Linked DNA regions of Homo sapiens: region 1 is linked to region 2. Evidence: fine-mapped expression QTL. A gene starts in region 2. The other region holds a variant in brackets. All regions are shown on one strand. Distances are between the middles of the regions. Region 1 overlaps DOCK7 (dedicator of cytokinesis 7). Region 2 holds the start of USP1 (ubiquitin specific peptidase 1).

What was found. PIP is the estimated chance that this variant, and not a neighbour inherited with it, causes the effect.
Region 1: its variant is the best candidate, but not a certain one, in a credible set for the expression of USP1 in tibial artery (GTEx, PIP 0.80).

Annotation. Positions count from the first base shown.
Region 1 is chr1:62,491,105-62,496,104 of GRCh38, forward strand. It overlaps DOCK7 (dedicator of cytokinesis 7), which reads right to left. Exons shown (of 50, transcript NM_001367561.1): 39 at 4,477-4,577; 40 at 3,171-3,363; 41 at 1,600-1,743. Among named protein-coding and RNA genes, the nearest start is that of USP1, 57 kb to the left of the region's middle. The variant T/C (reference allele first, on the strand shown) is at 1,883.
Region 2 is chr1:62,434,751-62,439,750 of GRCh38, forward strand. It overlaps USP1 (ubiquitin specific peptidase 1), which reads left to right and starts at 2,299. Exons shown (of 9, transcript NM_003368.5): 1 at 2,299-2,650. RefSeq lists enhancers at 766-1,533, 1,216-1,565, 1,534-2,301, 2,126-2,195 and a silencer at 2,896-2,955.

The DNA of each region.
Region 1 (5,000 bases), 56 kb after region 2:
GTGAGGCACCAACAGGTTAAATAATTTGTGCCTGAAGTAAGACAACTACTAAATGGCAGAGCCAGGATTTGAACTTTGGCAGTATGCCTTCTAAATCTACCCTTTATCAATATATTGCAGGATAGGGATAAGGCCTGGTGAAGAACGAATCAATTCCCAACAGCAGTAGAAATGGGGAAAGAGGGCAGCATTGCATATTACCTCAAGCTTCTCTCTTACCCTAACATGAACCTCAGCGTGTCCTAAACCTCGGTGCTGGTACACTAAACATTTAGCAGAAAAGTCAGAGGAAGTAACTGATCCTATCAACATGGTTTAAGAAGGTAAGCATGAATTCAGCTAACTATCTTTTCTTTCTCCAATAAACATCCCATCTGGGTTTCATCTGACTGCTTTAATTCTTCACATACGGATGGAAGGGAACAAGATTGGGGTTATAGCATGACAGCATAGTCAGGTAAAGGATTCAGGATGCAGTTCATAAAACTAAAGAGTAAGGCCCAGGCCTCCAATAACTACCTAATGAGGATTACTATGCAACCAATGGAATGAGTGGTCATAACTTTCTTGGACACCAGGGCAATGCCCATCATACTGGAAAAAAGATTCTCCATTTCATCCAATAGACAAGATCTATTTATAGAGCCCTGTCAGTCTACCAACTAGGAACTTATATCACTCAGAGACTTTCTGTTTTGTTTTGCTACGTTTTTTAACTTAAAGGTTTTAGAAAATGTTTGGCAGTAACAGTTTTATTAACCAAAAAAAATCTGCTACAAATCACATGCTGGTTAATAAACAAGCAAACGAAAAACACTGGTGGGTCTGGGCACAGTAGCTCATGCCTGTAATTCTAACACTTTGGGTGGCTGATGAGGGGAATATAACTTGAGGTCAGGAGTTTGAGACTATCTTGGGCAACAAAGTGAAACCCCATCCCTACAAAAAATACAACAATTAGCCAGGTGTGATGGTGTGCCCCTGTGCCCCTGTATTCCCAGCTACCCAGGAGGCTGAGGTGGGAAGATATCTTGAGCCCAGGAGTTTGAGGCCGCAGTGAGCCAAACCACTGGAACACTGGGGGAAGTGACAGATTATTAAGATGAAAAGGAGTAAGCCAATAATGAATCTAGAAAGAAAATCTTTTCCTAGATAGTTTTTAGGGGACTTGAAATAAAAAACAATTTTTTTTTCTTTTTTTGGAGACAGGGTTTTACTCTGTTGTCCAGGCTGGAGTGCAGCAGCATAATCATGGCTCACTGCAGCCTCAACCTCTTGGGCTCAAGCAATCCTCCCACCTCAGCCTCTCAAGTAGCTGGGACCACAGGCATGAGCCACCATGCCTGGTGAATTTTTAATTTTTTGTAGAGACGGTATCTCACTATGTTCCCCATGCTGGTCTTGAACTCCTGGATTCAAGCAATCCTCCCGTCTTAGCCTCTCAAAGTGCTGAGATTACAGGCATGAGCCACCATACTGGGTCCAGAATAAATTATCTTTAAAGAAAAGTAGGGTCATAAGCCAGAGAGAATAAATACACATGTCATTGATAATTAGAGGTATGAAACTGTGGGAAAAGAATTAACAAGAGTCATCTACCATAGAGAAGGAAGCAGCTGCTTGTTCCAGTAATCCCACAAGTCCTGACTCAGTAAAGTATTTTCCAGAGCAGATACCTTCTTCATCTGGAGATACCACATCATCTGAGACCGCAGATTCTTCTAAAACATTAGATGAAATATTCTAGGGAAAAAATATATTGAAAAGGTTTTTGAAACAGAATTTTCTAGCATAAAAATGTATAAGAAGAAATAACTGAAGATGAACTGTAACTATCAGGTTAGGTTAAAAAAAGGAGAGTGATATAAAGGTAAAAGATAAA[T/C]CTCTAAAAACTTTCTGTATTTTGAAGATGATAATAAAATGAAAACACCATTGCTAGATAACTTTTCTCTTAATAAAAAGTTGTATGAAAGAAAATTAAGAAAAATCATGGGCTAAAGGAAATTGTAATATAACATAAGACATCTAAGGAGACATCAATAGTCTTTCTTATTTATTTAATTGATCTTTTCAAAACTCTCTGTAAAGGAAAAAGGGTACAAAAATGGTCTCTTGACTTATCTAATGTACACGGAGTTAATGAAAAAAGTCAGGTATAATAAAAGCCCTCTTATTCAATGAGATTGGAATCAGCCATTATTTCTAAAAAAGAAATGATACATACATACCCTATTTTATTTTAACCTAAACATTTACAGTAGATGTACACTCATTCATCAACTTTTGAAGTAGATCTAAGGCCTTTTCTTTGTGTGTATGGGTTTCCAGATCAGATTTCCACGGAATCTCTTTTGGGTAAATACCGATAAGGCAACACTCTTTTTAAAGATTTCAAGTTTTGGTTTCTTTTGAGTGAAAACTTAAAAGATTATCAAATTATTCTAGAATTTTAGGAGTTTCCCCTCCCCCAATCTATTTGTCTGGCCCACAGTTAATTCAACAGCAATTGTTTTGGAGATTCACCTTTCCTGAGTCTTTGTAAAACATTCAACTTTGTTTTCCGAGAAACGATAACTTTCTTTTTGCATTCTGATTTCATCAGAAGATATAACATTTAACTAAATTTTATAATATCTCAAACCTACTATTAACAGGTTTTGAAGAAAAGCAAAGCATAACTGACTCTTGGTAAGCAGAGAATTCAACTAGTGGGTCAGAATTATGTACCCTACTAGAGGGCAAACTCATCTGTGAGTCATGGTATTAGTCATAAAATAATCTAATATTTTATGTAGGGAATAGAGAATGTTGGTATATCTGCTATGTGAAGTAAAAGCCAATTAAGAATTTCTACTGAATTCTGATTATCAGTAATACATTTCCATAGATGTTAAAGTATGTAACGGATTACAAGGCAGTAAAGACAAAGAGAATAAATAAGCATAGTGCTGATAATTCAGAGGTAAGAAACTGTGGAAAGAGAATCAACAAGAAGTACTCCTTAAAAATGTATTAATGACAATCACTGTGAAATGTTAATTCACCTTGTGAAGCATTGGCTTAAGTCTTTAAGCTTTCCTTATAAACTAAAAAAATCTAAACACCAGTGAGAAAAGCTAAAACCAAAAAAAGATATACCTTGATTTAATGTACATCTGGAAGATTCCTACCTGAAATGTTACACATCCCACAGGAAGATATTTCCGGTCCTCCAGCATGCTCAAATATTCAGCAACAAGTGCTGCTGAGTGGACTAGACACTGTGCAGCTTCAGCATGATTGCTTCGTTCTGAGTGCTTGCCTGCCATGTTCTGCAACCAGGTCAATCGCAGATCTGGAGAGGTCTGGTAACCCTTGGCAATTCTAATTAGAACAGAAATTCTTCTCCATTAGTATGTGCTTCCCAAGCTGGGAGGGAGTTTAGATAGCTCGCTCAGAGTTTACCTAGAAAGGTTTTTGATACTGTGCACAACCTACTTAGTTTTAAAGTAGTATGAAAATGTCGCTATGCAGGCCTAGAGAAATAACTGTGGCCTATGGAATGGATAATATCAGTTGGTGGGGGGGGCAGGAGGGGCAAAAAAGAAATACGCCATATTAAATTCTGACTTTTAAGAAAATAACCAGTTAAGGGAAAAAGTATGGAAATTTATGTGTTCATTACAGAAACATAGAGAAGTTTTATACACAAGGGAAAAAGAAAACTTCTAAAAGGTACTTTTATTACTTTATTTCAAAGAGATTAAATTGTTTTATTTGTGCTTTTAATGAACCCCAAAACTGCAGGAACAGAGGGTCATATGACAGAGAAAAATTCTTAAGTTTTACTATTGTATCTATTAAGGTGTTAATACAATACGATTTATGGAGTTTTCAAAATGTGCCCTTAGAAATATCATTCTTCAGTCATAACTGTATTGAAAATCAGGTAATTAATGTTATCGTAAAACATTCATATACTGTATTTTCTTCTGAAAAGACTGAGTTTTACACTGAAAATATTGGTATGGGCCTTCAAAGGAACTCTGGGGCCCAGGACACCAAGGTGTTAAATGTGTGTTATGAATACTTAAAAAAATCCTCGTTTTTGATAATCAATAAGTACATTTGCATTGTTCTTAAAAGAAGAGACACAGAAGATCCAAAGATGCCACCTGGAAAAAGTGCATTTGGACTTTCAATCTACCATTAGAAAAATCACTCAAGGCCAGGTGCGGTGGCTCACGTCTGTAATCCCAGAACTTTGGGAGGCCAAGACAGGCAGATCTCTTGAGCCCAGGAGTTCAAGACCAGCCTGGGCAATATGGTAAAACCCCATCTCTACAAAAAAGTAAAAAATAAAAATAAAAACAATAAAGAATGTAAATAAAGAAAAATCACAAATCATTTTTGTGTGTTTATTTTTTTCATCTAATGCTTACTGTATGTCTTACTAAGTCCCTTATACAAAGCATAAATGAATCAAATAAATGCTACCTGTACATTAGATCAATCAACATTTCAGGATCCTCCTGGTGTTCCTTCATTTTCACAGTATCAGAAAGAATCATATGGAGATTGAAAACCAGATCCTGGACCTGCAGCAGAGAATTATATGAAAAACATTCTTGAATTGTCATTCATCCATAATCACCAAATTAGTTTCAGAGATATTTCAGATAAATATCTAAAGATTTCAAAACAAGTTGTAGGATACTGATATGATTCTGTACAGTATAGGTATGTGGGGATATGGTAAGTGAAGGGTAGTAAACTTTATATAAATTCCTCAGCAGACTATGTTTATTTTTGTTCTTTCACCTGGAAACAAGCAGAACTGTAAGTAGAAATAAAACAGAGGGATATGGGAAATACAAGAATACAAAAGGAAAATTCTCTCCTATATTTCTGATTTTACTAAAAGGTAGTTTGTAGAAACTTTAGTTTTTAAGGCATATTATTGTTTGATTAATAAGTAGGAACGTTTCATCATAAAGCTTTGTCTGCACTGTCCAAGTCTG
Region 2 (5,000 bases):
GGGATCCTCCTCCCTCATCCTCCCGAGTGGCTGGGACTACAGGCACGTGCCACCACGCACGGCCAATTTTTGGAGTTTTTTGTAGCGATGGGTCTTGCCATGTTGCCCAGGCTGATCTTGAACTCCTGGGTTCAAGCGGTCCACCGGCCCTGGCTACCCGACCTGTTTTTTCTTACATTATCATACAGCCAATCCATCAGTAGAGCTCGTTGGCTGTGCTCAAAATATATCTTGAACCCTACCAGTTTTCAACATCCCACCATCTTATTCCAGACTACCATAATTTATTCCTTGGCTTATTGAACCAGCATCTTGGCTGACCTTTCCGCTGGTACTTTTCTTTTTTTGAGACAGAGTTTTGCTCTGGTTGCCCAGGCTGGAGTGCAGTGAGGCGATCTCGGCTCACCGCAACCTCCGCCTCCTGGGTTCAAGCGATTCTCCTGCCTCAGCCTCCGGAGTAGCTGGGATTACAGGCCTGCGCCACCACGCCCGGCTAATTTTGTATTTTTAGTAGGGACGGGGTTTCTCCATGTTGGTCAGGCTGGTCTCGAATTCCCGACCTCAAGAGATCAGCCCGCCTTGGCCTCCCAACGTGCTGGGATTACAAGCGTGAGCCACCACGCCCGACCCTGCTTGTACTCTTGAAGGTCAACGTGTAATCCCGCCACTCCCCAGCTCAGAATCATCTAACGACTCCCATCTCCTTACTCGGCTTACCCAGGGTCCTGCCTTTCTCACTCATCTCATCTCCTCCCATCTTATTTCCCAAATTGACTGCGCTCTAAGCGCCCTGGCCTCCTTGCTTCTTTTCAAAACACCAACCACATTAAGCTTCAGGACGTTTGTAACTTGCTGTTCTCTCTGCCCGCACCATTCTTCCCTCAGATTCCTCCAAGCTTTTTCATTCAGCTCTGCTCAAATGTCAACTCAAAGAGGTCTTTCCAGGCTATCGTATCTATCACTTATCTTAGCGTCACTTGTATCTCCCTCTCCAGAATGTAATGCTCCTTTATGACAGGGAATGCCTTTACATCCCTCGCGCCTTGAAAAATGCCTGGCACATAGTAGGCACCTTAAAAATACTTGATTAAATGGATTTGGGCTGAACGTATCCTGCTTAACTGCAGCACTTGAGCTGAGGTCACCTCACCAAAGCAGGCACACAAACACAAAAGGAAGCACACAACCAGATGAGGCCTGCCTGCCGCTCCTGAACCCTTTGGGAGGGCTCGCGCGGGAACCCTGGGAAGCTCCCGCGGCCGGAGCTGGGCCTGAAACTGTTCTTTCGTTTCCTCCTGCGGCCGAGAAAGGGAAGAGGTAAACAGGCGAAAATGAGGCGAGCAGGGGCTGAGGACCGGGCCTCAGCTCTACAGCATTCGCCTGAGCATGTATTGTTATCCGTGGCAGCGCCTTGTCTCATTGGATGGCCCTAGGCCTAGTGTGGCCGCGACTCCGAACTGAAAGCCCAAGCGCGGCGGCGTCCAGCCGGGCAGCCATTTTCCGAAGCTGCTCTCTTGGTAACCCCGCCCGGGCGCGTACGCACGAACGGAGGCGGGGCTTACCGCGAGGGCCTCGCTCCGGAAGCCGCACCCTCCGCGGCGTCCCACCGTCGAGGATTAACAAAACGCCAAACAAGATTTTAACAGTCGGCAGCGAAAGCGCGCACTCGAGCGCCAATGAGAGCGGAAGGAGGGGCACCGCGCCTGAGGAACACTCCGTATGTCGAACAATGATTGGCTGGAGCCCACCTTTCTTCTTTTTTGCTATTAGATGGGCTTGCTGCTCCCGCCCATCTAATTGGCTTTGGTCTAGGTACTTCTGATTGGCTTCCCCCGGGCGGTGGGAGGCGCGGTTTTGGGGATTGTTCATCATGGATTGGTGAATTTGGGCTCCTTCTCGAGGTGGTGGCCCATCCCGTCTGCTCTCTGTCCCGTCTCCCGACCCGTACGCTTTTCCCTCAACTCGCGCGCACGAATGGTTAAAAAAAGGGTGTGAGGCTCGAGCCCGCCAGCCAGGCCGCTAGCACCTCGCGCGCGCCCTCAGCGAGGACCCGCACGAGCTGCCCGGCTCTGTGCCTGCGTTGTTTGAAACTGTGGAACCCGTTAGGCTTTTGGGGAACTACAGTCCCAGCTGGCTCCGGAGCCCGTGCGTGCCAGGGGCGAGTGGCCGTCGCGAGACGGCTCCTGCCTTTCGTGTCTCTGCAGCGTGGAGACTGGAACCGGCAATTTCAAAGGACGCCACGTTCAATCGCAGCGCTGGCGCGGGCGGAGGCTAAAACACGGGGGTCCTGAGACTGAGGAAAACGCGCCAAGTTCCCCTCGGTGGCGGAGTGCTAAAGACCCTAGCGGTTCAGGCGTTCGGCGAGCGGGGCCGCTGCTTGTTGCGCTCCTGGCTCTCCCGGGGCGGGCGCAGATGGGCGCCGCTCCCGGGATGTAGTTGGTGTTGGTGCAAGACGGGAGCGAGCGGCGGTCGGGGTTCCCGCTCTTGGGAGCGGATGGTCACTCCCCCGCGGGGAGGGCGAGCCGACCAGATTTTCCTGGGGCCGGGGACCCGGCGGGCTCGGGGCAGGGACTCACCTGTCGCACCCACACTCATTCGGGTTGGACTTGCCGGCGTCACCGCCGCGGACTTCGCTTTGGGCCATGACCAGGTAAGGAGGGCCTGGGAGGAGGGGCCGGCTCCCGGGCGCGGGGGCAAGTTCGGCCGGCGCGGGAGAGGAGCTGCCGGGGAGACCCCGGGACCGTGTTGGCCTCGCACCCTGGTCGACCTGCCAGGGGGAGCCGTGTGTGCCTCGGGCGTGGCGCCTGTCTTGCCGCCGCCGGGACGCGAGAAGGCAGGTGCGGGCTGGGCGTAAATAGGCCAACTCCGCGGCGAGGGCGCCCGGCGCGGGGGTGTGGGCCGAGGACGCCGCCGCCAGCCTCCCCCGACCGGGCAGCCTGGTCGCTGCTCGTCCTTCCAGCTTTCTTTCCGTTCCCGAGAGCGGTGAAGGATGGGGAGAAAGAAACGTTTCCACGCAGGTTGCCCTGTGTCGGTAATTGCGAAATTTTACCGCGCATTTTCTTTCACTTACACTTTTTCAAGAAGTGTTTAGAACGCCGCGTGTCTTAAACCTTGGCGAAGATGTCCTTGTAGATTTTTGTTGAAAAATCGGAATCGAGTCGTGTCATCTTATAAAGAATTTAAAACTATTGGGACTGAGTGTTCACGCTGTCAACAGATAATGGTCGATTCGTCGTGCTTTCTGCGAAAGTTGATTTAGTTACAGGAGAAATATTTTGGATGTAACAGCCCCCCAGTTACAAGGAAAGCCAGGAGCAAGAAATAGCAAGGAAGATACTGCACCTGGCAAAATGTTACATTCTCGGTGTGAGCTTTGCTTTGAGGGGCTAGGAGGTTTGGTTTTTTGATTAAGCTGACGATCCGCTATTTCACCTGCCTAATCATTCTTCCCTTCTGTGTAGTCTGGTTACTCTGTCGGTTTGAGATCCAGTTTCTGTCATCCATTAAATTGGCTCTCGAGAAAAACCTTTTATCAGAATCATTAATGCTTGGCGATCCCTGAGAACTTAGCGCAGGTTGGTTTATCATTCAGAAGACAGCGCTTCCTCAGAAGCATTAGGTAGACAGGAGAGTAAGTGAAGTTGGAGACAGAATGGAGAGATGGATCAGCTTTCCAGTGCTTCCTGATTTGGGTCTCAGAAATGGTTTCAGTGTGCTGAGTTCAGTATGAATTCCTAGATCAGTGTCAGCCATGTGAAATGCTTATTAAGGATGAAATTTGAGTGAGTCTTGTGTAGTTCATTTTATTACTCTGCATTTTAAATTTGAAACTCGTTGCTGAAGTTTTGGGCTTTAAGTAATTTTATGGTAATACTCTAGTCAGATAATTTTTCCTCCCATGTCCTGAAAAATAGGCCTGATGTAGAAAATATTAACTCCTACACTCCTACAAATGTTGCCATTTTTTTTCACGTGCAAGTTTTACTTTAAAACAGGGTGGGAAAGTTGCAAATGGCAAACCAAATCATCTTTTTTTCCTACTCAAAGCACTATTTTTAAAATCCAAAGTTTTTTAAAAAGTTTGGAAAACGAGTATTGTGGTTTCTAGTGCATTAAGAATTGGATTTACACAAAGTGCATCGAACAGTTTTTTTTATCACGGTCTCAACTTTGCTTGTGTTTTATCTTTCACTTACGGTTTTAGGTATAACTTAACACCATCTCTATGCCTTGAATGCAAATTATTCTTTAATAAGCTTTTTAGGTACTTTATTTTCATATATCCATGTTAATAACTAGAAAAGGCATTGGAAGAGAGGACTCATCGTCCAGCACTACTTTGATTTTCCATTCATCCTTTCCTACCTTGTACTTGAGAATTAGAGGTGGTAGTGCTCAGTCAATATTTTCTGAATGAATCATTATAATGAAATATTAAGTTGTTTTTTTTTTGAGACTAAGTCTTGCTCTATGGCCCAGGCTGGAGTGCAATGGCACGATCTCGGCTCACTGCAGCCTCCGCCTCCCGGATTCAAGGGATTCTCCTGTCTCAGCCTCCTGAGTAGCTGGGATTACAGGCGCCCGCCAGCACGCCCGGCTAATTTTTGTATTTTTAGTAGAGATGGGGTTTCACCATGTTGGTCAGGCTGGTCTCGAACTCCTGACCTCGTGATCCACTCGCTTCGGCCTCCCAAAGTGCTGGGATTACAGGCGTGAGCTATCGCTTCCGGCCCTTGAAATAATAAGTTTTTACTACTTATACTATTTTACTGTAGGTCTACTAAATAGGATATTTTGTAATGCGACCCTTAATCCATAGCAGGCTGATTTTAAAAATTCAGTAGCTTCTGTTTTTTGTTCTTTAAGAACAGTGTGGTATGCTTCTTCATTTAAGCAATAAATATTGAGTGCTTATTGGCAGGCATTAGGTTTTCAAATGTTAATTTCTAATTTGTACCATTCCCTTGGTAAATTTGTTTTCAAAATTGATGATTTTGTTG